6 separate regions of the Homo sapiens genome follow, and regions 2, 3, 4, 5 and 6 are each reported to be linked to region 1. The links are microRNA targets in miRTarBase. Many come from high-throughput screens and were not tested one by one. Region 1 holds a microRNA gene; each other region holds the end of a gene's coding sequence.

What was found. The annotated mature microRNA hsa-miR-4789-5p reads GUAUACACCUGAUAUGUGUAUG and lies in region 1 at 2,472-2,493, shown strand. An mRNA with a match to its seed (bases 2 to 7 or 8) in the 3' UTR can be bound and repressed. Matches are read on the target gene's strand: a 7mer-m8 pairs with bases 2 to 8, a 7mer-A1 pairs with bases 2 to 7 and ends in A, and an 8mer does both.
Region 2: miRTarBase lists SV2B as a target of hsa-miR-4789-5p. The part of its 3' UTR that is shown has no 7-base or 8-base seed match.
Region 3: the mRNA of OPN5 is a reported target of hsa-miR-4789-5p. Seed matches in the 3' UTR shown: 7mer-m8 at 2,881-2,887.
Region 4: miRTarBase lists RASSF6 as a target of hsa-miR-4789-5p. Seed matches in the 3' UTR shown: 7mer-A1 at 1,959-1,965 and 7mer-m8 at 3,806-3,812.
Region 5: miRTarBase lists B4GALT6 as a target of hsa-miR-4789-5p. The part of its 3' UTR that is shown has no 7-base or 8-base seed match.
Region 6: the mRNA of IRS1 is a reported target of hsa-miR-4789-5p. The part of its 3' UTR that is shown has no 7-base or 8-base seed match.

Annotation. Positions count from the first base shown.
Region 1 is chr3:175,367,081-175,372,157 of GRCh38, forward strand. MIR4789 (microRNA 4789) reads left to right here and starts at 2,460; the gene lies at 2,460-2,541. The region is part of intron 5 of NAALADL2 (N-acetylated alpha-linked acidic dipeptidase like 2); the gene reads left to right.
Region 2 is chr15:91,292,216-91,297,292 of GRCh38, forward strand. SV2B (synaptic vesicle glycoprotein 2B) reads left to right here. Exons shown (of 13, transcript NM_001323032.3): 13 at 154-5,077. The coding sequence ends at 337. Among named protein-coding and RNA genes, the nearest start is that of CRAT37, 170 kb to the right of the region's middle.
Region 3 is chr6:47,823,157-47,828,233 of GRCh38, forward strand. It overlaps OPN5 (opsin 5), which reads left to right. Exons shown (of 7, transcript NM_181744.4): 7 at 827-3,225. The coding sequence ends at 835. It also overlaps the pseudogene RNU1-105P. Among named protein-coding and RNA genes, the nearest start is that of OPN5, 44 kb to the left of the region's middle.
Region 4 is chr4:73,571,689-73,576,765 of GRCh38, reverse strand. It overlaps RASSF6 (Ras association domain family member 6), which reads left to right. Exons shown (of 11, transcript NM_177532.5): 9 at 35-153; 10 at 259-356; 11 at 456-5,077. The coding sequence ends at 531. Among named protein-coding and RNA genes, the nearest start is that of RASSF6, 46 kb to the left of the region's middle.
Region 5 is chr18:31,620,952-31,626,028 of GRCh38, forward strand. B4GALT6 (beta-1,4-galactosyltransferase 6) reads right to left here. Exons shown (of 9, transcript NM_004775.5): 9 at 1,295-4,810. The coding sequence ends at 4,663. Among named protein-coding and RNA genes, the nearest start is that of TTR, 32 kb to the left of the region's middle.
Region 6 is chr2:226,790,570-226,795,646 of GRCh38, reverse strand. It overlaps IRS1 (insulin receptor substrate 1), which reads left to right. Exons shown (of 2, transcript NM_005544.3): 1 at 1-658. The coding sequence ends at 637. Among named protein-coding and RNA genes, the nearest start is that of IRS1, 6.7 kb to the left of the region's middle. RefSeq lists a silencer at 3,559-4,248.

The sequences.
Region 1 (5,077 bases):
TAGCCAGTTTTCCCAGCACCATTTATTAAATAGGGAATCCTTTCCCCATTGCTTGTTTTTCTCAGGTTTGTCAAAGATCAGATAGTTGTAGATATGCGGCGTTATTTCTGAGGGCTCTATTCTGTTCCATTGATCTATATCTCTATTTTGGTACCAGTTCCATGCTGTTTTGGTTACTGTAGCCTTGTAGTATAGTTTGAAGTCAGGTAGCATGATGCCTCCAGCTTTGTTCTTTTGGCTTAGGATTGACTTGGCGATGCGGGCTCTTTTTTGCTTCCATATGAACTTTAAAGAGTTGTTTCCGATTCTGTGAAGAAAGTCATTGGTAGCTTGATGGGGATGGCATTGAATCTATAAATTACCTGGGGCAATACGGCCATTTTCACGATACTGATTCTTCCTACCCATGAGCATGGAATGTTCTTCCATTTGTTTGTGTCCTCTTTTATTTCCTTGAGCAGTGGTTTGTAGTTCTCCTTGAAGAGGTCCTCCACGTCCCTTGTAAGTTGGATTCCTAAGTATTTTATTCTCTTTGAAGCAATTGTGAATGGGAGTTCACTCATGATTTGGCTCTCTGTCTGTTATTGGTGTATAAGAATGCTTGTGATTTTTGTACATGGATTTTGTATCCTGAAACTTTGCTGAAGTTGCTTATCAGCTTAAGGAGATTTTGGGCTGAGACAATGGGGTTTTCTAGATGTACAATCATGTTGTCTGCAAACAGGGACAGTTTGACTTCCTCTTTTCCTAACTGAATACCCTTTATTTCCTTCTCCTGCCTGATTGCCCTGGCCAGAACTTCCAACACTATGTTGAATAGGAGAGGTGAGAGAGGGCATCCCTGTCTTGTGCCAGTTTTCAAAGGGAATGCTTCCAGTTTTTGCCCATTCATTATGATATTGGCTGTGGGTTTGTCATAGATAGCTCTTATTATTTTGAGATACATCCCATCAATACCTAATTTATTGAGAGTTTTTAGCATGAAGCGTTGTTGAATTTTGTCAAAGGCCTTTTCTGCATCTATTGAGATAATCATGTGGTTTTTGTCTTTGGTTCTGTTTATACGCTGGATTACATTTATTGATTTGCGTATATTGAACCAGCCTTGCATCCCAGGGATGAAGCCCACTTGATCATGGTGGATAAGCTTTTTGATGTGCTGCTGGATTCGGGTTGCCAGTATTTTATTGAGGATTTTTGCATCAATGTTCATCAAGGATATTGGTCTAAAATTCTCTTTTTTGGTTGTGTCTCTGCCTGGCTTTGGTATCAGGATGATGCTGGCCTCATAAAATGAGTTAGGGAGGTTTCCCTCTTTTTCTATTGATTGGAATAGTTTCAGAAGGAATGGTACCAGTTCCTCCTTGTACCTCTGGTAGAATTCGGCTGTGAATCCATCTGGTCCGAAAATAGTTACATTTTACAAACGAATCTCTAACACATTTTGGTATCTTTTTTTATACTTTGAAAGGACTGTAGCAGGTGTGTGTGAGTGTGTGTGTGTGTGTGTGTGTGTTTATAGCCAGTATGTATATATGTAGCAAATACGTTCATGTGCCATTTAATAATGGAGATGCTTTCTGAGAAATGCATCATTAGGTGACTTCATTGTTGAGAGAACATCATAGAGTGCACATAACACAAACACATTGTGTAGCCTCCTAAACAACTAGGTTATGTCGTATAGCTTATTACTTCTAAGCTACAAACCTGCATAGCATGTTATTGTACTGAACACTGTAGGCAATTACAATGCAGTGGTATTTGTATATCTAAACATATCTAAACACAGAAAAGGTACAGCGAAATATGATATAAAAGATTAAAAAAAATTGCCACCCCTGTATAGGGCACTTTTCATGGAACTTGTGGGAGTAGAAGTTGCTCTGGGTGGATCTGTGAATGAGCAGTGAGCAAATGTGAAGGCCTAAGACGTTACTATGCATTACTGTAGGCTTTATAAACACTGTACACTTAGGTTACACTAAATTTGTTTTAAAAATTAAGTAATTGCACTAATGTCACAATGAGAACAATGCCACTAGAGTTTTTCAGCTCCACTATAATCTATGGAACCACCCTCATGTATGTGATTTGTTCTTGAGCAAAATGTCATCATGCAGCACCTGACTGTATATATATGTAGCAAGTATGTGTGTGCCTGTGTGCGCGTGTGTATATATAAATGTTACATTTACATACACCTGATATGTGCATGTGTAATTATATATGTAACAAGTATGTGTGTGCCTGTGTGCGTGTGTGTACATATACATGTTACATTTACATACACCTGATATGTGCATGTATACATATATAGGTAACAAGTATGTGTGTGCCTGTGTGCGTGTGTGTACATATACATGTTACATTTACATACACCTGATATGTGCATGTATACATATATAGGTAACAAGTATGTGTGTGCCTGTGTGCGTGTGTGTGTATGTGTATATATACATGCTACGTATGTATACACCTGATATGTGTATGTGTAAATACATATCCACACACATAGCAGGTGTATATATAGGTAGCCTGTGTGTGTGTGAGTGCATGTGTGTGTATGTGTAGCAGGGGTTTTGTGTTAGAACCAAGAGCTTGGAACTGGTACAATGAAAATATTTTGCCTGAAAGATATGCTTAGTAAAAGTCCCAAGTTTCACACATTTTTGAGGCTCAAAGTGAAGAACTCAAAGTGAATTATTAGGTAATCATATCTACTTCTTCCTAAACCCTTCATCTGATTGTGTGCTAAAATTTAATACTAACTGATCTTTCCATCTCCATAAAATTCTTTGAGATAACAAAATCCTACATTCCGGTTTCTGAAGGATGGTATTCTGCAAATGTGAAAGTTTCCCTTAACCTCCAAAAAATAATTGGGTTAATCCAGCTACCACAAGTGTGAAATTGAGAAGCTGCTTGCTAAGATTGAATTTAATATTGTCACATGTCATCTGAGAGCTGCTTGTCTGATCATGTTGCCACTGGACAAAGTAAGCCTTACTACAAAGGATAAAAGAATGATTATTTCAATATCCAGTCATAGTTCATCATCAAACTCTGAGTAAAATGGAGAAAAAAAGACGTTTTATCTTATATGACTCTATGCATTTCTCTGGGAAGTCATTTATCTGGTTGCTATCCAGGAGAGCAAAGATAATGGGAAAAATCTTCCACTATTCTCAACTATAATTTTAAATATCAAATTTTAATAAAATAGGTTTTGGTTATTTCTTTTAAAAGCCCTCAATATAAGAAAATGAAATGTTAGAAACTTATTTTATAAAATATATTTGTGAACCATAAAACCCCATATAAAATGGAAATTATTATCACCATTAACTACTGATGCTTCTAATCTTATTCTGTAATGGTTAAAAAATGACTAGAATTTAGAGTTACTGCCAATATATGGGGGGGGGAGGGATTTTATAAAAATAGCTTTATTCATTTGCATGTTAAGCAAGAGTGTGATTACTGATGGCCGTAAGAGTCACTTGCTGCTTTAAGCTCTGCTCTGCTGCTGACTCTACATGTGTAGCTTTGAGAGGTCCTTTAGCCCCTCCAGCTTTCCACATAGGCAGGATGTGGCTATTGTACTTGATGATATGCCAAACATGCTTCTGATTCCAACATTCGATGGTTCTGTGATATTTCTACCTTATTACAAAAGACATTCACTTTAAAAGTATAAACACCGTAGTAACTTTTTTTCTTTCATTGTTTTCAATAAAAGGGTAATGGAAGTAAACTGACAAGTTTAGGAGGCTTTCAGAGCATAAAGGAGAAAGGCTGGCAGCTCTTGAGAACCTCTTTGCTTTCAGCTGAGAGCAAGTAGAGAATGCTTGCTCTCTGGCCCTGAATGTCATAACATTATGTTCAGAATCATTGAAATGTCTGACAACACTGTTGATTAAAAATGAGAATCATTAGGCCATGTCTGCCGTTATAGGATGAAGGGTAGTTTGAACAGTATGGAAAAAAACTATCCCAAAAGGATGATTTGTCTTAGACAATATTACCAAAATTTCAAATTATACTATGTATAGTAATTTGCAGTAATTCACTTTTTTTTTATATTTAGCTTCATCTTAAAAGTTCTCCTTCATTGGTAATGCTTTGAAAAATGCTGGATTTAGAATTATGAAGAGACTATCAACTAATATTATGGATGATATTATTATTATTATTATTTTTTGAGACGGAGTACTCGCTCTTTCGCCCAGGCCGGACTGCAGTGGCGCTATCTCGGCTCACTGCAAGCTCCGCCCCCCGGGTTCTCGCCGTTCTCCTGCCTCAGCCTCCTGAGTAGCTGGGATTACAGGCGCCCGCCACCGCGCCCGGCTAATTTTTTGGATTTTTAGTAGAGATGGGGTTTCACCGTGTTAGTCAAGATATGGATAATATTATTTAGAAACCATTCTGTGTGCTACAAAAGTCCTTTGAGAATGATATGAGCTGGGCACGACGGCTCATGCTTGTAATCCCAGCTCTTTGGGAGGCCAAGGCGGGTGGATCACCTGAGGTCAGGAGATCAAGAGTAGCCTGGCCAAGATGGCGAAATCCCGTCTCTACTAAAAATACAAAAATTAGCTGGGTGTGGTGCAGGGGCCTGTAATCCCAGCTACTCAGGAGGCTGAAGCAGGAGAATCACTTGAACCCAGGAGGCGGAGGTTGCAGTAAGCCAAGATCATGCCACTGCCCTCCAGCCTGGACAACTCCATCTATTAAAAAAAAAAAAAGATAACCACTAAAATGGCTATTATTCATCTTTCAAAATCTGTAATACCTGGAAGTTCTGCATGACCTTTAGGAAAACTACATCCACAAAGCGTTCCTTCTAGTTTCCTAATAAGTTTTAGAAGAAATATTGCCATTCTGAGCTAAACTAGTTCTACTTCCTTAGGGCAAATTCCTACCATAACATGAAATAGACAAATATAATTACTCTAAAAAAAGTCCAGCCATAGCATCTTAGAGTTTAAAGGAATAACCCTTAGGAGTTCACAAAATTTTTTTTCCACTGCTTCCTAGGCAGACCTCATTTAGTGTAGCTGGCGTGTTGCCCTGC
Region 2 (5,077 bases), not on the chromosome of region 1:
AATTTGACTACAATGAGAATGTGTTATTTTTATATTTAGGAAAAAAAACTCCCTTGCACCCTCTTCCCCCTGCAATAAGGAAAAGAAAGAGCCCAGTCCTGTTCATCTAATGTGGTTCAGAATGTCAGAATTATTTCCATTCCTCTTTTACAGAGCAACAGCCTTCGGCATTCTCAATGGATTATGCAAATTTGGCGCCATCCTGGGAAACACCATCTTTGCTTCTTTTGTTGGGATAACCAAAGTGGTCCCCATCCTTCTGGCTGCTGCTTCTCTGGTTGGGGGTGGCCTGATTGCCCTTCGACTGCCAGAGACTCGAGAACAGGTCCTGATGTGAACAACCTATGGGAAAAGGAAAGGTCGAGAGAATCTTGTCCAGGACACTGAAATGCATCCACACTTCCTGCCTATCACGGTCCGGAGGACACCTTGGATAGCACGGGAGGAGAAGTTGACTTTGTGACCCCTAGTTTAGGACCCACTTCAGCTGTCAATATGTTTGTAACTCAGGTGACTGATTTGGGGGTGCCCTGAGCCACCCTTAGAATCACAGAGCTGCGTGTTTAACTTCAAGTCTTCCCAGTCCAAGGCAGGGAGAGGATTCTCCAGTGAGTGCACACACTATGCGAGGAGCAAGCATTTCTCTAAGTCAAGTGCAAGGACTTAACTTGCGTTTGAAAAGGAATTAGAGGGTCAGAAACACCCAGGTTCCTCCAGAAAGCTCCTTGGAGCCCAACAACTTAACAAATCAACTTGGCTGGAAGTTAGAGTCATTATATGAAGATTGGGCTTGAAGTATATATTTTTGCATTTAAAAGTATCACCTATCATATTTTCCACTCGAAAATTGACATAGTAGCATTGAGGATACTCTGATCTAGAAAGCCAAGTATTTGAGCAACATCTATAGAGATCTACTTTTCTCCTATGTCTCCTAGGCTTTCCATGATAATTAGGTAATACATTTAAGAAGGATATTTATTTCTGTTTTGCTCTATTCAAAGAAACGGAATGGGATAGTTATTCTGTAAACTAAGTTTGTATATAACTTTATTTGGGTTTAATTTCCACAACTGGTATCTGCAAATATTGCCAGCATTTTAGCCATATTTTGGGAGAACTTGGTGTTTGAGGTCCCAGGAAATGAGGTCTGATCAAATGAAATGCAAGCACAATTTCTTACAGCCATTTAACTTTCTGTTGGGAGGATGAATTAACAAACTCACATTGTGCAGTCTGCTTAATCCAGGCACTTTTCTTTGTGCAGGTGTAGTGAGTAGTTACTTCTCTCCCTTACACAGATGACTTGTGAAACTCAAGCTCACCATCTTCAGTGCTGGCATTTTACTTTGCCACTACCCAAAAACAATGTGAGATGTGTTCAGTGGCCTCTGGTACTCTTTGCAGGCAAGAATCAAACAACATGGGGACTGAGGGAAGGATGGGGAAGTGTAGCCACAGTTCTTCCAAATGTAAATACTTTTTGTTTGTTCTAGTGGTAAAATGCAAATGCAATCCATATTTGTTAGGATGGTCAGGTCTCATGAGAAATCTATGCTATGTGTCCAGAGCTTTTGAAACAGAGTCCATTGGAGTGGGAGTTAGGGAGTGTAGTGGATGCCAAATATGTTTTTCTTCAGTGCTTAAGAGAACTGTTTCCTGAAGTCCAGCTTTGAACATAAACAGGGGTGTGGGTTGGGGGAGGAGCTTAGGACAAACCTCTCTGATGAAGGTCAGCAATAGACTGAAGTCTTGACTGCATGGAAGAGGAAAAACATCAGAACTGTCTGACAATGGAGGGGACAGTGAGCTACGCACAACTGCCAGCGGAGGTGAACTTGCACCTGCCCAGGCCGGATGAACATCAGCCTGCAAGAACTAGTTGTTTGAGTTGATTTGCAGTGCTCTCAATGGGCAAGTGCCACATTTTCCCTGGCAGAGATCTCCAAAAATTTAAAACAGAATAATAATGGCTATATCGAGTGTTTTCTCAGTATTGGAGAAATGCTTAGGTCCTATGATAGCTTCGGGACATCTTTCTGTAATTTTCCTCAATTAACGGGTTGGTAGGGGTAAATCTTATGACACCTTTCCACCGTCGATTTGAGATCAGTTTTAATGGTTAAAATGTTTACTCTCCTTCTGTCAACCCTCACCTTTTTATTTACACCCCTCCCTTTTTTTCTGTACAGGGAGAGAAGACATATTGACTCTGACTGGACACCCTGATTCCTCCAAATATATATACCACTGTGTATTAATCTTTCTCTCAGTGTTTTATAGGAGTACTAACATTTATTGCTCTGTCAATAATGAAAGGCTCGATGTAATATAGCTGTAATTTACTTTCCATATGAATACAGTGGCTAGGTTCATAAAAGAGAATTGTGTGAGTCTGGGATTACCACATCTAAAACATTATTCTTTAATGGGATAATACAATTCATTGAGCAGCTACCACTTAAAAAACTTGCAGGACAGTTAGAGCCTGCATTTCTAGTTAAGATGGATCTTGTAAATTTAAAATTGGATTAACATTGGAGTGCTGGGGTGGCTGCAATAATTTGGGGGCTAACTCCATTTGGTTTCCAAGATCTCACTTCTGCATTATCTTTATGGCTCTTTAAACCAGCCACCTAGCCAATCAAGGGCAATTCCCATCTCATCCATCACTCAGGTCTTTGTAAAGGGTGCAGCCAAGCTCTGCAGACTTTTGCAGGATTGTCTAGCCTGAGTACCGGGCTACTTCTTAAATGCCGTCACTCCTGCTGAGATAAATGCGTCTTTAAAAATAGTCTCTGTGGCAGGTCACTGGGGGACAATGTACAGCATTCTGGCCATCCACTTCTTTTTCACTTCATGTTCTACCCCAAGAGACTCCCGATGTCGGCTGTGGAGGGTTAAAGGGATGAGGCTTTCCTTTGTTTAGCAAATCTGTTCACAGTTCTTGATGATGTATTTTATGATGCCCAGCTTGGAAATAGTTGCTTTCCATAGTCTCAACTGTATTGTGTCATCTCCTGATGCTGATTTTTGATCTTTTGTTTTATTAAAAATAATTAGTGAAAGAGGTGTGCCTATCTGTGAAGTTTGTAGTACATCATCCTGAGGTCATGTAACAAGTAAACCCCAACCCAGCGTTCCCTCCTACGTTGTGTTAGTTCATTAAAACTAAATAATAAAAATAACTGTAAGAAAACCTTAAGGACTGGGGTTAGAGATTATTTTCAGGCACTAAGGTCTCTTCTGTATTCCAAAATTGATTGAATCAGCTGGGAGAAACATTGAGAATCGCTTCCTTCAACTTTTATTTTGCAACATGGGGACCTTGAGAGGTTAAACGATGTGGCCCAGATTACATGTAATGTGAGGAGTGGGCGAGAAGGCCTAAGGTGATGCTCTCATGACAGTTCTGGGGAAGCCTGCAGTTTGGGGAATGGGACAATGTGACAAATACTCGCCATTCCCTGAGACCATTCATTGACTATTCCCTTGATGGCTTTACTATAATGAGAGGAAGCATCAGTTTAAACATAAAAAGATTAGTATTTATCCATCCATTTATTCATTCAGCAAATCCTTATTGAGCCCTGACCATGGGCCAGTCTCTCTGCCAAGCCCTGGGGACACAGTGATGAAAAAACTGGCCACAGTTTCTGCTTCCTGCCTCATTCCACTTGCAGTGAGCGGATATTAAATTGGCCATAAACACCGAGTACGATGACCTTACAATCCGCAAACTGCACCTTTCATGTGTAAAAGGATTGCTACTACTTTACTTGTCAGCTGTGGATTTCCAAATGTGGTGGCTCCCTCTTATTTTTTTTTCTTTGAGGAGTGTACCAATTTTTTATCTTTATAAACCAGGTAAGGGAAATGATGCCCTTGCCCATTTTCTACAGACCTAATCGATTTTTACCTAATCAGTTTTACAGAAAGGGTTACATGGAAGAAGAGATAGGGGCCAGGAATGCAAGAGGGACATTGGTGAGTGGGGTAAGAATCCCCGTAGCCCTGGGAAAGGTGTCTCCACTTCCACATCTGGCTTTTCTAGGGGGCATCTGTGCTAACTGACCTGGGATTATGTTGGATGGCATATGACTGCAAATTCAAAGAAACCAATTTATAATAAGTTTATAGTAAGTTAAAGGTTTGTTTTACTCTCATGTGAAGGGAATCTGGAGGAAGGAAAGCCAGGGCTGGAGTGGCTGCCTTTGATCATGGGAGCACACTCCTTCTGCCCGATCATTGGGAGCACACTCCTTCTGCCTGATCGTTGGGAGCACACTCCTGCCTGATCATGGGCGCACGTTCCTTCTGCCTGATCGTTGGGAGCACACTCCTTCTGCCTGATCATGGGAGCACACTCCTTCTGCCTGATCATTGGGAGCACGCTCCTTCTGCCTGATCGTTGGGAGCACACTCTTTCTGCCTGATCGTTGGGAGCACACCCCTTCTGCCTGATCATTGGGAGCACACTCCTTCTGCCTGATCATGGGCACACGCTCCTTCTGCCCGATCATGGGCACACGCTCCTTCTGCCCGATCGTTGGGAGCACACTCCTTCTGCCCAATCATTGGGCTCACGCTCCTTCTGCCCGATCGCTGGGCTCACGCTCCTTCTGCCCGATCTTGGGCGCACGCTCCTTCTGCCCGATCGTTGGGCGCACGCTCCTTCTGCCCGATCGTTGGGCGCATGCTCCTTCTGCCCGATCGTTGGGAGCACGCTCATTCTGCCCGATTGTTGGGAGCACGCTCCTTCTGCCCGATCGTTGGGCGCACGCTCCTTCTGCCCGATCGTTGGGCGCACGCTTCTTCTGCCTGATCGTTGGGCGCACGCTCCTTCTGCCTGATCGTTGGGCGCACGCTCCTTCTGCCTGATCGTTGGGAGCACGCTCCTTCTGCCTGATTGTTGGAAGCACGCTCCTTCTGCCTTCAGACTCCTTGATTTTTAGTGCAGTTTCCATCACTGAGGCTGCCTCATGGGCTGAGATGGCTGTTGAAGCACTGAACCTCACATCCACAATTCAGGCAGGAAGCAGAAGGAAGGGCAATGGGCAAAGGGGCTGTGCCTTGC
Region 3 (5,077 bases), not on the chromosome of region 1:
ACACAAATTTAACCCTCAAGGAGCTTATACTTAAACAGAAAAGGCAGAGTCAGGGGTTGGAGAGATAGTTTGGCTTCAAGGAGGAAGCACTATTTAAGCAAAAGCTTAAAGAACAGATTAAGTTTTCAGGCATAGAAGGAGGTGGAGTGACATAACCAGAAGCCCCAGCTGAGTCATACCTGGAAGACAGACAAAAGTTTATATCAGATGGATTGAAGGGTATGTAGGAGAAGATACGTACCTGGCAGGGAGACGCCACAAATCCTAAGATTGTTTTCCCATGGCAAGCCTTATCTATTTCAGGACAGATGTGCTGATCCCTGAGATACCTTCAAATATGGTAAACTCTACTGCACAATTTGTGGTAGTGCGGGACTGTGTTCACGCTCTCTTCTGGCAAAAAAAAAGTCTTAAAAAATGAAAAGGAAGGGTATATGGGAGAAAATTAGGCAGTACAGGTGAGTAGGGAGAAGATCCTGCAAGGCCTTACAGGTTAGTCTTTGGAGTTTGCATTTCATTCTAGGCAATGCTTAGGAGTAGAAGACCAGGATATGTATTGGGAGACTTTGGAGATTCTATAGGTAAGAAAGGAGCCTGAACTAGAATTGTGGCCTTTAGAACATCCAGGAAGGGAACAGGGCAGGATGCACCTGCAAAGAGGACTCTGTGGGTTCGGGGAGAAGCCATCTCAGTGACAATGTCCATCGCAATCCTGGTTCTTTTGGTGTGTGTGTGTGGTATGTTTAGGCTCTGAATTTAGTTTTGGACTTTCTCCACTTACTGGCTGTGTGCCTCACCCTAAAACTCAATTTTTTCTTCTCTACAGTGGGAATAACAAATGTTCTGGTTGTGAAGAGTGCATCTGAAGTGCTTACACGGCGTCTGGCATATGCAGAGAAATTAGCTTACAAATGTTATTTTTCTGACTTCTCGCCTCCACTCCACTTACCCTGTCAGGAAAAAATAATTCACAAGGAATATCAAAACAATGATGCACCCTAGGAGTATCCAAGTATCTTAACTGAGTTATCTCATTCTGGTATAGTGGCAGAGTTATAACTAAAGAGTGCCAGAAACCCACGCTTTAAACATCCTGCAGTGCACACCTCGGTCTCGTCAGTAAGGACTTCACTTTCTTCTGAACTGGGGCTTGTGAAAGCTGGCCTGAAAAGCCTGATTCAAGGAGATCAGGCTGTGTCTCTGACTGGAGCAGCTACACTCCCCATCTGTAATTTGATTTGTTCTATTGCAGATGATGTACTGGGCAGAGGTGAGTGTGGATTGGTGAAAATCTGTTTTTATGACTGGCAAAGCAGTGCAGGGGGGTCTTTCACTGATAAGAAGCATCATCAGTAGGGTTTGTCCCTGATGCCTTTACAACAGCATCTGAGCACCTCTCAAGTTTTTCCAGGCCAGCTCCAGTTTCAGTGAGGAGAGTGTGGGCTTTCTATTCCCCAAATATTCTTACTACAGTTAATATGTAGGTTACTGCCCCAGCCCAACTGCAGGTTCCCAGATGTGAGTTCCATGTAGGCAGAAACTGTCCAGTTCTTGAAATTGAATTACTTCCTTGTGTATGTGTTTTTTTCCTACTTAAAGCTCCTCGGGATGCTTCCTCTCAAAAGTCTTTGAAGAATAAGAGGTTAAGCTAAGACAACCTGAATCAATTTTTTTTTTTTTGTCAAATGCGATTGAAATTATCCCCATAATTCAATAAAATAGCTTTTTCCCTTCTTTCTTTTTACTTTGTTGGAAACTATGCAACAGAAACAAAGTAAGAAGACTCTACCTTAATTTTAAAGGTAACTCTTACATAAAGAAGAAAGTCATTATGCCAGGCCAGGGGGAGAGTGGAAAGGGGAAATTTAGAGAATAGAAACAAACTTAAGCATCTTGTAAATTTTGAGTGAATTGTAAACACATAATGAATGAATGAGAAGGGCCAGCCAGGAGTCTGTGAAATGGTCCAGTTGGGAAATGCCTAATGCATAAACACAAATCTTGGTGACAGGTAGGTTAGTTATCTGTGAACTTTCTAAAGATTAAATAAACAATAATAGGATTTTGTTAATGTGCCAAAGTGAGTTTAAACCATGAAAGACACGATGCAAATATGCAAGTACCTTTAATTGGGCATAATAAAAAGTAGTGAGGTATGGTTAAAATAACATTTAGAACAAGAGAGAAGTTAGGGAGAATTTTTGTCTAAAAAGCCAAAAAGTGATAGTTGATTGGTGATTTTGTTGTTATCAGGAGAGAGAATTTTCTTAATGTAATAAGTTAGGTACTTTGGCAAGTGAAATGGGTTCTAGGCCAATTGCAAGTCCTTAGGATTCCCTGGCAGCTAGAAACCTTGGCACTCCCAAAAGACAGCTTCAGTTAAAATGACAGATGAACATGAGTCTTCAAGTCAAAACTACTGTTGTACCACGTCCATTGAATGTTTGGTGATTCAAGTCTCTGTTATTCAAGAACTGATTCTGTTTTTCCTCCTGTCAAAACCTTGGTTGATTTTGACTGTAGTAGCACATCTGGCAGGAATATGACAGAAAAAAATTAAGTTAAAAATATAATTTCTATTCCCCTATTTTTTCTGTAAAAGGCTTTATGGGGAAGAAGGGAAGAAGGTTGACATGAGTAGAGATGATACTTGCCTCTGGATGACCCAGTTGGGTTCTCCTTTGACTGCCATTCACCACAGTTGACCTCATTAGGCTCCGAAGTATGAGAAGAGCTTCATTGCCAAGTTAGTGAAAGAAGCAGATGATTTACTTTTGCTCGAGTGGGTCTGTAGACCTCGGGAGGTTAGCCATTTCTCTTAGAGTTTGGTGTATGTATTAAGATACAGCATGTATGTAGGTATATATAATACATATATGTGTGTATACATATATATATATTTCTGGTTTGTTTAATATCTTTTAAAAAATTTTAATGGAATTTTTTGAACATGTACAAAAGAGAAAGAATCCTACGATGAACTCCCATGTATCCATCATCCAGCCTCAATAGTGATCAACCCATAGCATATTGTGGTTCATGTTGACACTCATCCACCTCTTTCCTTCCCCATCTCTCCCCATTATTTTGAGACGAATGAGATCCTGGGATTTCGTGAAAATATTATGAATATCTTATTTGTGAGAACAAGATTTCCCAAAGCATGATCCCCAGAAACCTAGTCCTGCAAAACTACTGCAAAAATAAAGTGTTCTAATCTCCAAACGTTTTAGGCAAGTGTTAGATATCATCTCTCTTTTTTGAAGAATTGTCCCATACGGGAATACATTAATGGTTCTTCACCTAAGAACTAATTTAAAGCAGTATCTTCCAAACTTAATTGAGTCTGGAATTCTTTATTTCCAGGAGAGTCTATTTACATTGTGAGGAAGAAATGTTAAGAGACAGTATTTACCACATTTGCCAGGCACTCACTATGTGTCAGGTTTTCTGTTAAATGCTTTTTATGGGCATTACTTCATTTAATCCTTATAAGAATCCTATGAGGTGAGATTGACAGATGAACATATTACCCCATTTTCAGATGAAGAAATTGAAGCTCAGAAATAGAAAATAACTTGGTAAAGGTCATAGCAGGCGCAAGATTTTCTCCCAGGTCTGAATGACTCTTGAATCTGAGTTCCCAACCCTCATGCTATGCAGTTGGAGAAGGGGTATTAACAATATCTGATGACATGAGCATCCTCTGGTGGCTTTAATGTATTCCACTTTTTGATTTGAAAGGCACTGGGAAGTTTATCTAAGACAATAGAGGAGAGAATAATCTAAAAGGTACAAAAGTTGTTTTGTACCTTCTATCATCTAAAAGGTACAAAACAATTTTTTTTCTACGGAAGTAGAAAATATTATTAATCAATAATGTTGTACTCCTATTTTCTTATGCTAACAAGGGAAACAAAAATACAACAGAACATACACAATCAGAGTCATTAGGCTAAGAACTTTGTTTAGTAATATTTTCTATTTCCATAGAAAAATTGTTTTGTGCTTTGTAGATTATTTTCACCTCTATTGGCTTAAACTTCCCAATGCCTTTCAAAAAAAATTAGGTTAAGCATTTTTTTTTAATTTAGCAAATAAGACACAGAAAAGATATATATCTTGCCAGAGGTTTGAAGTTCATTACAGAGCTGGAATCAGAATGTTGATATTTATGTCCAGGGCAATTTTTTTTAGCTGCACCATGAATATTGCATTGACAAATAGGATATTCCCCCAACTCCTGGCTTGTTCTGGTTGGTGTACACTGGGGAACCAAAGAACTGGGAGGGAAGGGAGACTGCCTTAATCCAGAGTTACTTGATAGTGGAGAGTCCATTAGTGTTAATATTGTTTTCAGGATTTTTCAGAGGCAAGGTCTAGTGCTTATCTTAGCATTTATATCATGTTTTGTATATTTTCAGGTAGGAAAGGAAAATCTAAAGATTTAGTTTTCTTAGGACAAACTGTGAACTACCATCATAGTCCATTGCTTCTTTACACGTGGAAAACCCTGCCAGTGCTCATTGTGATATGCAGTCATCCCCAGGCTGTTTTGGAAGCTCCAGTTCATGGCCCAACAGTGATGGGAGGGGCTCTGTGGAACCATTCAGGGATTCCTCAGTGAAGGTATCCATGATATAGCTGGGAAGAGGACCAAATGGTGAGGTGGAAGAGTGGCTCTTTACCATCTATCTCACATTCCTTGTCAAGGTCAATGTATTATTTTCTAGATGACATGTTTGGTATATTATTCCCTGAGTAAAAAAAAAAAAATATGCAAAAATTAAAATACAGATGCAATTATTTTCAAAGATATTATGGGAAGAAGGATAGTTGTGTAATAGCTACAGAGAATTAAGCACCAGCATTATTAGAGCATTAGCAAGGCAAACTAAACACCTCTGATTAACTGGGCATTTATTCTGGCTGAGACAAACTTGCATGGAGATAGGGAACATTTGGATGTACGGCTGCAAATAATGAGTGTTATCACTTCGTTAAAGTAGGTCAAGGTAAGCAAATGTGATAGATTTTTTTCCACATGGTATAATTACCAAAGGCAATTCAGTAGGTT
Region 4 (5,077 bases), not on the chromosome of region 1:
TTCTGATTGTGGTTGATTCTTGTTTTCACTGCAGAACAAAGACGACTAAAGAAGACAGACATTCCGCTACTGCAGAGGCTCCTACAGGGACCTTCTGAAAAGAATGCTCGCATTTTCCTCATGGATAAAGATGCAGAAGAAATTAGCAGTGATGTATGAATACCATCACCCTGAATCTGTTTTTTGCTTCCCTCCTGACTCAGCACCTCTTGCATAATTGTTCTGCTTTCTTTTTTTTTTCTTCTTCTTCTTTCTTAGGTGGCTCAGTACATTAACTTTCACTTTTCTCTCTTGGAATCCATTCTTCAAAGATTAAATGAAGAAGAGAAAAGAGAGATTCAAAGAATAGTAACAAAGTAAGTCAAGAGCATGCACATTGGATACTCCGTTCTTTAATATGTCCAATGCACAAAATATGTCCAATTTTTAATAGTCTTTCTTCTTCTCATTTTCAGATTCAATAAAGAAAAGGCGATTATACTGAAATGTCTTCAAAATAAACTAGTAATAAAAACAGAGACAACAGTTTAGCAGTACAAGCTTCTATTGCTAAAACATTTCAAAAAACTCAGAGATATTACTCTTTGATGAATGCATAAGTTCTGTACTTGCATTTATACGAACATATATGAGACTTGAATCGTAGAAAATTGAATGTCAAAAAAAGCTCATTTCTTTTTGAAGTGATGAGGTTAATTAGGGTTCACAGTTGGACAAAATGAGTTTGAGTTTAGTTTCAGTAACTGAAATAAGCTTGAATACTGCATATGCCAAATAGCTTTTATAGTAAACCATGTAATGAACTCAAATTTAAATGGTGTCTTCAGATAAGCAGTTTAAACTTCATTTAGCTTGGACTCTCAAGAGAACTGAAACATAATCAATGGATTCAGAAATGACTCAGAAAAAAGAAGCTGCCAGTTCTTGGAATGAAAAAGAAATACAGTCTTACACCATCAAGGAATCTACCTGATAGTGACAGTAGCTTCTTGAAAACTCTGGCATTTTCATAAAATCTAGGACTATCTTAAATGGCCTGTTGACTTCTGACTATCTGTAACATCAGAGCTGTCTGGCCTTTGGAAAGGAAAAATTATGGACTCTGTTAAGAAATCCTAATTGAAATTTTCTGAACCTCCCCCCAGCCCTTTTATTCTCTCTCTTCTGCTGATGAAAGACCTTTCATCAGTTCAAAGCTTTTCTTAAGCTCTTTTTTAAGTTAATTGAACTTTTTCTTTATTTATTTTTCAAAAAAATGTTTATATCACATAGACATATTACATCGGCTAAAGTAAGACTTGGCCCACAAATACCTATTTGTTGCTGAATGAATACAATGGATAAAGCAAGGCTGTTGTAGCTGAAGTTACATAGGGAATCCCAAACTCTGCCCTCTTAGCATCTTATTCTACATGACAACTCTCAAGGTACTCACAGATCTGTTTAACCCACTTGAAAAAAAAACACTAAAAATGAAGAAATGCTATAAGTATAAACTATGATTTTATTTATAAATTCTGTATTAAAATGGAATTATATGCAACATTCTTTCATTCTGTAAACTAATTCCATTTGCATTCCTCATAAGCATTGTAGTAAATTGATCATATTACATGTACTAAGGAATGAGATTATATGCAGTAAACCCAACTGGAAGATTAACAATATTAAAATATGAAACATTTTTAAGACAAAGGCATTACTTCTCAGTATTACCAAACCTAAACTGGTTGAAGGTGAAAGTGTGCTATGGCCTTTTCAAGCCTAAGAAGTCTCTCTTACTGAGTAAACCAGAGGCTTGCATCGCTATTCTTTCACCTGTCAATATTAATAAGAAAATAGTCTCATCTCACTTAAATGAGGCAAATGTAATAGTTAAAATTCAACATACTTATAAAAAACTAGTGTCATGTACCTGCCATGAACATGACAAAAGGTTAGTCTTCAATAGACTGAAATGTATAAGAGAAGAACCAAGTCTTACATAGAAAAAAAAGGTAGATATGAAAAGAAAAATCACAGAAGAGAGAATGCAAATGGCCACTAAGTATATGAAAAAAGTCGTATCTTAACAGTGAACAACTGTGTTAGTCTGTATCAATCAGAAGACAGAAACAAGGTAGTAATTTAAACAGGGAAAGTTTAATATAAATAATAATTAAGCTATGATAGGAGAATAATAATAAAGATGAAAAGAGAAGGTACCCTAAGGCTGAGGGAAAGAATCCTAACAAGGAAAGGCAGGAATGAGGGTTTCAGAATTCACTGGAGAAGGTGTGGTTGCAGCCCACTGGAGAGAAGTTTGCTGGCTTGCCCAGGCCAGAGCAGGACCACAGATACTGGACAAGCTGGTACAGCCAACCCCCTAGGTGTGGACCAGCTGAGGCAGGTGGGCAGATATGCAGAGGGACTTGGGGCTTTGCCAAAGGGTAAGCACAAAGAAGGAGTCACGGGTTCTGTTCGAGGCACTGTTGGGATTAGGAGCCGGAGGGACCTACTTTGCAGGAACCTAGCATAACTTTGTGTGACGAGACTGCACAAGACAAAGCTCAGGCAAGTGGCTCAGTAGTTGGCCAGCCCAGCAGGGTCCTCTGTATGAGTGTGCACCCAGCTGAAGAGAAGAAATGGAGAGCAGCAATTGGAGCTTCAGGACCGGCTTGCACTGTGGCTCCAGGTTATACCACCACTGCCCAAAGCAAAAGCTAGAGAAGCAAGTGGAGAAATGCTGGAGAAAGCTGCACCCTACAGGCAACCAGCACTGCAGAAACCACTCCAGGCAAAGTAGTGAAGGAAAAAAGCCTGCTCTCCAGTAGCCTGGCCTGTCAGCCTGGAGGAATCAGGAAAGACCCCTTCCTCTTGCAGTGTGTCTCCAGCGCCCTCTACTGACAAAGTATGCCATCATGCAAGCTGCAAAGGAAACATTTCAAGAGTCTATATCTATTTTCACGGAGCGGGCAACCAACAGTGAATGTGGAGCTGAGAGACAGTAAAATAATAACTGACATGCCACCGAAGTACAAAGTAAAATAAATAAATAAATACACATTTTGGCCTATTAGCAAAGATTAAGAAATGATAACATTAAATACTCAATAAATCACCATGAGATGGGGACTCAAACTTCTGGTAAAAATACAAATAGATATAATTTTTCTTGAAGGCAATTTAGTAGTCTGTTTATCCTATAATTCTACTTGTAAGATCCTATCATATGAAAATAACCAGAGATACAAAGACATTCTGCAAAGATATGTTTTATATTGTTATTTATTGTGACAAAAGGAAATAAAAAGCCTAAATGTTCAGAAAATTATTTTAAAAGATGAAAGAGGGAAATAGGCCATGGACGGTGGCTCACGCCTGTAATCCCAGCACTTTAGGAGGCCAAGGTAGGTGGATCACTTGAGGTTGGGATTTCGAGACCAGCCTGGCCAACATGGTGAAACCCTGCCTCTACTAAAAATACAAAAAATGAGCCGGGTGCAATGGCAGGCACCTATAATGCCAGCTACTCGGGAGGCTGAGGCAGGAGAATCGCTTGAACCCGGGAGGCGGAGGTTGCATGAGCCGAGATGGCGCCACTGCTCTCCAGCCTGGACGACAGAGCAAGACTCCGTCTCTAAAAAAAAAAAAAGAGGGAAATAAACATTTATTTGTATATTGTTATGTAGCCATTAAAATTCTGTTTCCAAGTAATTTTAATTACAGGGGTAAATTCTTATATATCTAAATAAGAATATACACATACACATGTTCCAAAATATTTATTATGTACTTAAGGCATATATATTATATATGTATGTGTGTGTATATATATATGTATTTGTGTGTGTGAACACTAATATTTGCATATATATACACACAAGAAATAAAAACATGTTAAAAATGGCTATATCTGCATTGTAGAATTATGAGTGATTCATGTTTTTCTAACTTCCCTATCTGTATTAAGTGTTCTATAGTTTATATTTGTTACTTTTTACATCAGGAAATAGTAAAGTTATTATTTAAAACTTATGAACAAAAAAGTAACAAGCACATGCAAGCACAGAGTTCTACCAAATGCAAAAAATTTCAAATCAATTATTCAAATGAGACATTAACATCACTTCTGTGGTAGTTTTATATCCATAAAGTCTGATTCTTCTCCTTTGAAGAGATGAAGCTTAATCTTCCTCATCCTGAAAATGGGCTGGACTTAGTGACTTACGTCTTTTTATTTTATTTTTAATTGACAAATAATAATTGTATGTATTTATGGGGTACAATATTATATTATTATATATGTATACATTATGGAATTATTAAATCAAGCTAATTAACATATCCATAACCTCTTATAATTTCTTTGTGGTGAGAACATTTAAAAATGTACTCTTTTAGCAATTAGGGACTTACTTTTAATACAGGAAAATGGAAGAGACTGTGAGACTTTGAAGTAGGTCATAAAAGTCACTGTGGCTTCCTCCTTGCTCTCTCTTGGACCACTTGCTCTGGGGGAAGTCAACTGCCATGTCCTGAGCAGCCCTGGAAAGACCTACATGATGAAGAACTGAGACCTTCTATCAAATGCCAGCAGGGAATTGAGGCCTCCTGTCAACAGCCATTTTAGAAGTAGATCTTCCAGCCTCAGTCAAGCCTTCAGATGACTGCAGCCCTGTCTAATAGCTTGACCGTAATTTCATGAGAGACCTTCAGCCAGAAAACCCAAGGAAACCATTCTGGATTCCTCATCCTCAGAAACTGTATGAGATAAGAAGTGTTTGTTGTAGTACGCCGCTAAATTTGGGGCAATTTGTTACATAGCAATGTATAGCTCATACAATTTCTGGGAAAAAAATAGTTTATTTTCGAATCATTTTTGCATAATGCAAGAATATAAACTTGTCACAGAATAATTTATCCTTGTTTTAGGTGGTCCAAATATTTCATTGTCAGTTATATATTAGCTCAAATTAAATTTTAGATAATATATATTATTATTAATGGTAAAGAATGTGTCACATTTATCTTTATAGCTTTTCTGTACCTAATATTGTGTCTTGTGCGTAGGATGTGCTCAATAAAAATTGATTGA
Region 5 (5,077 bases), not on the chromosome of region 1:
CCTTAAGCAAATTTTTAAGGTCTATTGCAGAAGAACAATTATCTCAACATCTCCTTCTGAAGTACATGTTTACAGCTGAGAAATACGTGCTGGAGAAAAGCTGCTCCTGCAAAGATGCTCAATTAGTTAAACAGACAATCAACGTTTGCAAAGGACAGAAATGAGCCCCTCATTTGATAGCATGTGATTCTTCAGGTATTTCTGCTACATCAGTTTTACACAGAGAGGATGTAAACTCCTTGAGGGTAGGTAATGTCTGATACCTCTCAAGATCCTCCAGAGCACATACTTAAACTGATAAAATTGGGAAGACTGTATTAGCAAGGGCATGCAACCAAAATCTGTTAGCGGAATGTGTTGAGAAAGATGCAAGTTTTATTTTTCACACCGTTTTTTTTTCCTTTTCATTGCATAGTTGAGCGGCAAATCACTTTTCTGAAGTCGCTTAAATCAAGAGCAATACAGTACATGCTCCTTAAGAACAGACTTCTCTAAATAAAATTTTGGTCCAGAACATACCCAACCACCTTAAATCTTTGTCTAAAGATAGCACAAAAAGTGTGTGTGTGTACAGTGTGTGTGTGTATATAGAATATCAGGTATATATGATCATATATACACACACATACACACACACACACATATATATATGATCATTAAATGGAGTTACTATGTTTTCACCAGAGGGCACATTAGTACCATAGTGGGGCAGACTAAGCTGACTAAATTTCACGGCTTTAAATGATTATGATTTTAATGATTGGTTTTAGTTATGACATGCAGTGACAATATCCCTATAGATCATATTATACATAGAGTAATTACAACTCATTTCACAACTAGTAAGTTGATAAAACTCATGATCTTACAATCTAGTCTCAAATACAAATCTAGTCCCTAGGTATTTTTGAAATTTGGCTCTTTGCCTTAAAAATCATCGATACCTGAAAAACAAGTAGTAAATTGAGCATAACACACCAGCTTAGTTTATTGAAGTTGTGCAGGAAAAAGAAAATTTATGCTAAAATGAATTCTTAAATATTTATCTTGATATAATAGATTACTAATTGTTGTACTAATGAAAAATACTTAAATACTACTTTTTGAGATAAAAGGAATAAGGTGATCTCCACCTGTATTTAAGCTGTGGTTACCTTATGCTTATATTGCAACCCTATTGTCAACCAAGATATTCATCAATAATTCATTTAAAATTTAGGATAACAAACAAACAAAAATCCCAGGTAACCCAAAAAAGTTCCTGAGAGGAAAATAATTACATCTTCACACAAAGTCTTTAGAACATTATATTTCATAAAAGACAATGATAAAAAAGTACAAACATTTCCATGAGAAGCAAAAAAAGAAGTGGGATACAAGAAATTACTAGCATTTATTTCAGTGCATTTATGTAGAAGCCTTTCATCTAAATAAATAAAATAATCTTAAGTACACTTCCTCTTTCTGATAAACAATACTATAACCATTTTAGTTCTCTCAACCGGCATACTTGCAAATACAAGACAATAAATCTACAACAGTATGTATTTGAAAAACACATAAAGAAATATATCAAAGACAAGCAAAGGCCAAATAAAATGACAAAATCTGCTTTCACTTGTAGGAAGCCTCCAGAAAGAGAATATTGTATTGGACATTTTTCCATTTTGTTTTAAAATATCAGTATCTTGGCTGGCAAAAGGGTATATAAGGAAATTTTTAATACATAACTGTATCTACTTAATATTATAAAGTTTTCTTACTGAATAACTTTTCACAAAAACAAAAACTTAAATGTAGATTTAAAAAATACTCATAAAACCCTAGTTTTAGCAAAGAATTAACTATCTCCACTGTGAATTATATATAGTTCCAGCAAATGTGTACTCTTCTCCTTTTCTTCTCTACAGACAGGCCCATTAGTCATTACTTCTTTCTGTAGTTGAAAAGCACCATGTAATTTTCCCAGTTAGTGCCATAGGGACCTCCTATTAGCCCTAGGTCCACATATACGGGTTTCTTGACTTTGAGACTAGGAAATACAACAGATAAGTTATCAGAAGATGTCTTCATAATTTCAGAAAGATCTCAATTTGCTTGACTTCATTTGTTTAGAAATGAAGTAATAATACTCCTTCCATAGACATACCTAGCATTGCACTGGATATGGAATAGGCAATCAATACATGCTCATTAATAAATCCTCCAAACATCCTATAATTTGCATTTGCAATGTATTTGTTAATCTTTATGTAATAATTAATACAATGAAGATAAACGGGCACAGCTCTGTCACTCTCACAGAAACATATTAAGTTCACTGTTTATAGGCAAAAATAATTTTAGGTCTACACTAAAAAAGCAAAACAAACAAACAAAAAGCAAACGAGGTGGTTTTCACAGGATGACAAACTATATTTCAAAACTGAAAAAAAGCAAAATGTTTATATCTCACTCCTGAAACAAAAATTAACATCAGACTTAAGAAAATAAGGCAGATACTAGTAGTACTAAGTTTTCTTGAAACTGTAAAATATATATAAAAATGAAAAGATACCGAATGTGGACAGCTCCACATTGATCAACAAATGTTAACATTCTCAATCTCTTTCATTGACTTTAAAAACTATGTAATAGAAACAGAAAATGAACTAATACACAAATGAAGTACAAATATCATAATTTTCAGAAGGTTTGATTTTTCGAGTACCATAAAAAAACTGAAATATAAATATTTTGGAAATAGTTCTAAGAAATAAATATGAAAATATTTTGTTTGGTATCATAACACAGAAGCTATCCATTTTCTCAAAGTGTAAGGATTCAATTATTTTATGATTTAGTTTGTGGTCATTTGTGTTATCAATATTGCCATAAAAATGACACTTCAAAATAAAACTTACAATCTGAGATAAATAACCATAGTTCTGTTTTAGGTAAACAATCCTTGAGGCAAATATTATCCAAACGTTTCTCATATATAGATTTCTATTGCTCATCATTGTTGTTGAACATTCACTTTATAGATATTTAATTTTTTGTTTAAAATTTGTGAAAATATCAAGATATTTTAAACAATCTTTATAATTGCTAATTTTCAAAAAAGAATACTGTTCGGCTTTACTGTGGAAAAATTCATCCAAAATTAAGATATGTACTTGATATCAGGTAGTAAGACCTTTTTTCAGAGAACAGTCATATGAAGATAACTGGACAAAGCCCTGACACTCATGCAAACATGTAAGATATTACATATAGAAGACATTATGGCATCAGTGCACCAAATAACTCATCACGTATTTTAAGACAATGCTATTAAATTATGCTTTTAGATACTACATATAGAAGACATTATAATATCAGCGCACTGAATACTGATCATGTATTTTAAGATAATTCTATTAAATTATACTTTTAGAAAGAAAATTTTAGTAATTAACACCAGAGATATAATCTCTTAAAAGTGAAAAAAACAAAATATAGTTTGAATGAAACTAACATTCAAGGGTCCCCTCCAAAAGTGAAATTCTATGTCTGAAAACTAAACTTAAAATTTGTTTTTATCTACTAAGTATTTATCTTTATAAAAATAGAATATTTAATTCTTATCTAATAGTATAATTCATTTGTATATTATAAGTACTATTGGGTTTTCTTCCATAGATCATTCTTTTAAAAAAACTGACTTGATTTCTTTTTAAATGAAGATACTTTTTTTTGGCTCTTCTGAACTGGAAATAATAAAAGTGCTGTTCACCGTGAATTTAAAAAAAATACACAGTATAAACACACAACCTTGGAAACATTTTTTGAGGCACAAAATCCCTGACACACCAGAGGTACATGGAAAGACATTTAACATAAAGAGATCCTTTATATCATGTCACATCACAACTTTTAAGATTTTTCTTGGTAATACTCATGCAATATGCATAAACAATATGGTTGTGATTTCTAGCAAAATCAGATGAGATTGCAAGCAAGGAAAAACATAGGTAATCCCGGTAGGAAGAAAAGCTATTTAAGTCCTTCCTTCTTTTCCTTTAAAGCCTAAGAAAGCTGTGACTTCTTCCACACAAAAGGCTGAGGTCTAAAGCTCAAAACTAGTATAACAGTTTACTGTATTAGTTGGCTGTCAATTATTGACAGTTCCTTCATTTCACACAAGGGTTAACCTTTGTTTAGTGATGTAAATTTAGTGAGTTTTTTTCATGCAAATAAAAAATGTCTATAAAAGTCCAATAAAGGTATAACCGATTACATGCAAAACTGCAACACATCTAATTTTTAAACAATTTGCACACATTAATTTATATCACATATATACAAAATATGTTTAAACGGAAATAAAAGCATTCTCTTGAATTAAATTATAGATTTTAGTATAAAAATTTTCTCTTCGGAGGGAGCTCTCTTAACTTCCGATCTTAAGTAGTGGCTTCCCGTTTCTGCGGTGCTCGCCACAGGGGTGTGTCTCAGAGCAGGGAGGACGGGTGAGAGAAGGGTGACTGTATATAGTCCCACTCTGTAAACACTGTGGACTGCTGGCTCTTCTCAGAGAAAAGGGCACTGTGACACAGCCAATCACTGACCTCCACTAAGAGCGCGCTCCAAGTTTATGATCCAGCATTGTGGTCTACCTTGCCACGACAGCCACTTCTTTTAATAGTCTTCGATTGGAGCTAACTCTGGCATGAGGTTTACAGATATGTTTGTATACAACCTATCAACCAGTATTTTTGGCCTATATATTAAATTGTTCAGTCCATCGATGTACTGACGCTCCTTGGAATACCTTAGTAATTTATACCTATAGTTTTAGAGGAAAAAACAAAAAAGCAACAAAACATGTTCAAAAAGGAAAACTGATAAGGACTGTGTTCAAGGTCATCTTATAATTAAAGCACTTAATGCCCTTTACAATTTCTGGTTCTTGTGCATAATTTAAGAATCTCTAAACCATTATTCTAAATTAGCAATTTTACTACTCAAGAAATGCCACCTGAAAAAATTATTTTGCACTTTTACAATTAGACATCTTTAATAAATAAAACATTATGCTTTATGTTACGTAAAT
Region 6 (5,077 bases), not on the chromosome of region 1:
GGCTGCTGCCTCCTCATCCTCAGCAGCCTCTGCTTCCCCGACTGGGCCTCAAGGGGCAGCAGAGCTGGCTGCCCACTCGTCCCTGCTGGGGGGCCCACAAGGACCTGGGGGCATGAGCGCCTTCACCCGGGTGAACCTCAGTCCTAACCGCAACCAGAGTGCCAAAGTGATCCGTGCAGACCCACAAGGGTGCCGGCGGAGGCATAGCTCCGAGACTTTCTCCTCAACACCCAGTGCCACCCGGGTGGGCAACACAGTGCCCTTTGGAGCGGGGGCAGCAGTAGGGGGCGGTGGCGGTAGCAGCAGCAGCAGCGAGGATGTGAAACGCCACAGCTCTGCTTCCTTTGAGAATGTGTGGCTGAGGCCTGGGGAGCTTGGGGGAGCCCCCAAGGAGCCAGCCAAACTGTGTGGGGCTGCTGGGGGTTTGGAGAATGGTCTTAACTACATAGACCTGGATTTGGTCAAGGACTTCAAACAGTGCCCTCAGGAGTGCACCCCTGAACCGCAGCCTCCCCCACCCCCACCCCCTCATCAACCCCTGGGCAGCGGTGAGAGCAGCTCCACCCGCCGCTCAAGTGAGGATTTAAGCGCCTATGCCAGCATCAGTTTCCAGAAGCAGCCAGAGGACCGTCAGTAGCTCAACTGGACATCACAGCAGGTGCGTTTCATGGTGACAAAGTCAGAAGACAAAACTGCTTTTAACCTTGTCCTTGAATTCTGTTCTTCGCCTCTGCCCCTTCCTGTTCTTTCCCACTGCTTCCTCAGGGAGAATGCACTTACATTCTCAGGGCACACAAGATGCTCACCCCACACTGACATCTGGCAGAGAGTCAAACAAACATGTAGGAGCAGCCACAGGAGGGCTTTTTCGTTTGAGAATTCCCAAGTGAAGTAGTTACTGCAGTATTTTTAAAACATATATCCTATGCCAGTTCTGCGTTTTGTAGAGTTCCTCCGTAAGAAGCTTGATTTGTTTGTTGAAGTTTTCTTTTCACTATATATTTAGGTCAGCCCCTGGAAGGGACAGTTCTACAAAAAATATTTGTTAACACAGGGGCTAAACCCTTCCTTATCTTAAACTATCTTAATAGTTTCTGGGAGCCCTTAAGGGTGATCTTATCAAGTTGTTCTCTGTACTTTTGTTCTGTGATTTCATAATACTAGGGCAACATAAACAGCAGCGGGAAGCATTGATTTCTATTCATCCTGCCCTAAAAAGATCAGGAGTAAGAGCTTTTTAGAAATATGTATTTAGAGAGAAGTACCTATCTATTTTGTGATCTCTCAAGAAAGTAATTATGGGTGACGTTCTCCTTTTGTTCATGTACCAGGATTTGTGAAATATTATTCACACACCGACCCACCATCCCACGGGCCTGGCCTCTCTTGTACAGGATATGCAGGAAACTCTGTATGTGTCTGGGACCCATTATTAAGAGTTATGGGAGTTCATCCTAGGATGTCTGCCTTATAGTTATCTCTTCTTGCACTGAGACATTACAGATATCATTTGGGGGCTACTATATATCTTCTGTAAAATTACTTTTATTTGTTGAGAAGAATGCATACTAAGTCAGGAACATGCCTTAATTTGTTTTGTTTTGCATTGAGTAGAAGGGCTAAACTGTATACCCTCCACTTTTAGGGTTATTTGCTGTGTGCCTTTAAGTTCAAAAGTAGACACCACAGTAAATGCTGAAAGTTGGCTTTAGGTCTTCTGTGGCTAATGCCGTATTAAAAATGAAAAACATTTGTAATAGGAAATTAGCCTGCCCTTCGTTCTGTTGATCCTGTTTTCTGGTGGTCATAATTGTGGGTAGAAGAGAGTACAGTTTGCAAATAATGTGATGAGTTGGCAATGCAGAAGTTTCCAGCATTTGGAAACACTTTACTCTGACAAACTGATTATCTTGTGAATTTTATCTATGCTCCACAGAATGAGCTTTTAAAAGCACTGATTTTTCTTAATTTGTGTCCATTCATAAGAAATTAATCTGTGCCCTGGTTTCCTATTGACAGGTATTTATTTATCATGTGTTCATAGTCTTCTTAATTCTGTTTCCAATATTTGATCCATATAATTCTCTATTTTATAGAACAAGAAAAAGGTATATGAACACTCAAATGAAGATTTTGGGTGATATGTTACAAAAAGCATTTATTTGATCAGTATTTACTTCAACATTTATTTTCATCATTCACTAGAAGAAAGATTTAATTGTGTATATCAACATCAGTAGTACAAATCTTGTTATATCAAATGATGTTTTTGGGAGTCAGAATCCCTCAACACTTTAAGCATTTGTATTATAAAGTGCCTCATTGGTAAAATAATGAGAATTTGAAGAAAACCAGCCCAGCAGAACTAAAATTTTGGTTTTAAAGGAGATAAAGAGAATAAGTTTTTCTTACTTGTCATCTTAATTTGTTTAGGTTTCTTTTTATAGAGTAGAATAAATGATGTTTGCTCTGAAGAGAATTGATGACCAACTAGAATTTTCATTTTTAAAAAGGGCTTTAAAATAAAATTCTCCTATGTGTTGGATGCATTAAAAAAACAAAAACTCTACAAAATTCTATCCTTAACCTTCTTTGGGAAAATAAAATATTCTGGAATAATCATATAATCCTATTTCTAATAATTCTGGAGTAACAATCGACCATGCTTTGCACAGTGCCAGGAAAATTCTACAATGCGTATTTGAGATGTTTGTGTTGGTGTTTAAAGTGAGGCACCAAATGCTACCTGGCACATTTACATCCTCAATTCTGCTTGCTTGCCTGTGCCCTGTTGAGTCCAAAGATGTTATTCTATAGCTATCTGAAACAGACAGAAGTCAGACCTGTGAGTGGCAAACAGCTTCTGCTCCGAATGTGTGTGCAAACATTATTTTCCTCACTTCCTCAGCAATTGCTGTCTTTGCTTCTTTTCCTCATTTCTCAGGTAAAACCTGAGACTCGGTGAAAGGAATAGAGGTATGATGAGGCGTGGGCTCTGTTGAAACATCTCGGCTTGTTTAAAATTTTTCATTGTCTGTTAAGAGGAGAACACTTGTGAAGCACTGAGCTCAGGAGCTCTACTTGTTGGAAGCCTGTCTGCTTTACCTGTAGTCCAGTGACCTTTTCTGCCTGCCCTTTCTCTTGCATAGCCTCTTAGTTCTGGCTTGCTCGTTTTCTAGTACTATCCCCTGCCATCCCTTTGTTTCCACCTCTTATTTCATGTTCCTGACATTATCCTTTTTTTCTTTTGCTCCTTTTCAGAATTTCGCAGTACTTGTGGCCCACTCTCTGCAGAGAGTAAATTGAGAGCCCAAGAAGCAGGGCAAAAAGAGCCTCTCAGACTCGGTCATAGCAGCCCTGCCACCTTTACCTGGCATCAAATTTATCTTTTAGTTTTGAAACTGCAGCTGACAAAGACACAGACCCCAGCCATGCCTTTTGGGTTCAGTTTTTTTGTTTTTGTCATTCTTTGTTATGCCCTCCCCCTTTAAAAGAAAAAAGAAAAAGAAAAAAAACAGAAAAAGACTCTTTCCATTTCTTTTTCATTCAGTTTCCTTTTTTGTGATGTCAAGGATTCCGTACCTCCAAGGTTGCCTCCCCTCCCTCCCCTTTCCCCAGCCCTGTGGCCTTTTTGGCTGGCGCAAACCCTCTCGGCCCTGGCACTTTCCCTTTTCCGGGTCACCTCCGCTTCCTGCATTCCTTCTCCTCCCTCTTCCGAGCCCCCTTTCGCCCGGGGTGGGGGAATCTGCAGCCAGACCGCCCTCGGGTCTCCCGCCCCCGCCCGTCTCGGGTCATCCAGGGCGGTGGGGCCCCTTCCCGGGCCGCGTGGTCGGCGCTGGCGGGCGAGGCCCCGCCCTCGGGCACAGCCGCGCGGCTCTGGGTCCCGGGCGGGCGGGGCGGTTGGGCGCTGATTGGCCCCCACCACAGCCAATCAGCATGTGAAACGGCTGAGCCGCGGCGGGCGCGGGGCGGGGCTCTCCGCGGGTCCCCTGGCGGTGGTGGCGGGCGGGCGTCCCTGGGCCGCTTTCTGCCACCCTGCCTGGCACCTCTTTCCCGCGGGTGCCCGCAGGCCGAGCCGCAGGCCCCCTCTGCACCGCGCCCGCCGACTGAGGACGTTGTGCCCTCAGCTGTATTCTTGCATTTGGATCAGAATCCTAAGAATGAAAAAGTCCAACCAGCCCACGGACGGGGGCCGGAAACACACACTTGCTCTTATTTTTAATTGAGAAAAATCCAGGCCGTAACCATGTGACGAGCCCCATTTTGTTTCCCTTCTCTCTTTACTACGGTTTACTACGAGGCCACGTTCCTTCGTCTTCCGGTCTCGAGATCCGCGAGCAGGAGGGAGTCCCGCACGTGGCTGCGGGCCTGCGGGCCAGGTGGGGTTGGCCCGCGATTCCTGCCCGCCCCCCTCAACCAAGGGAGGGAGAGAGACCTGCGAGTGCTGCGGATGCCATCGTTTTGGGTCATGGGGGGAGGGGGAATTCCTTTGGCTTGAAAGTGCCCTAGGCTCCATACACTTTACTGCAAAGCACCAGAGCTAGGTAAGAGCTGGGAAAACGCATCCTCCTGGGCTGTGAGGGAGCTCACAGCGAAATGAAAGACGGGACTGCAGCTTGCAGATCCTGAGAACCCGGTGTGACAAGGGTTTGGGTAGTGTGTTCCTTAAAGGCTTGGAGGAAATGCTGTGGCGTTCTCAGACACAGATTCATTTTTCCATCATTGACAGTCCCAGTGACAGCCCGTCAATTTAGGCTGGGCACATCGATTTTGAAAGCTTGCTAGATTTGTGTTGTGTACCCTCCAGTAACCAAAATTATGTGAGATATATTACTACATGGGATGGAAAATGTGTTCAGATTTGGCCTTTCTAAAATAAGGAAAATAAGAAAGAAAAGTGCTATGGGAGTATTTTCTCCTCCTCCTCCTTCCCTCTCAAATAAGCATTTCTCACCAGCCAACATCCCTCTTGCATCACTGAATCATAAGATCCCAGGGCAGCGCTTTTTCTGAGGGGCCAAGTGAAACATCACAGGTGGAAACGTACCAAGCAGGTGCAAATGTTATGACCCAAAAC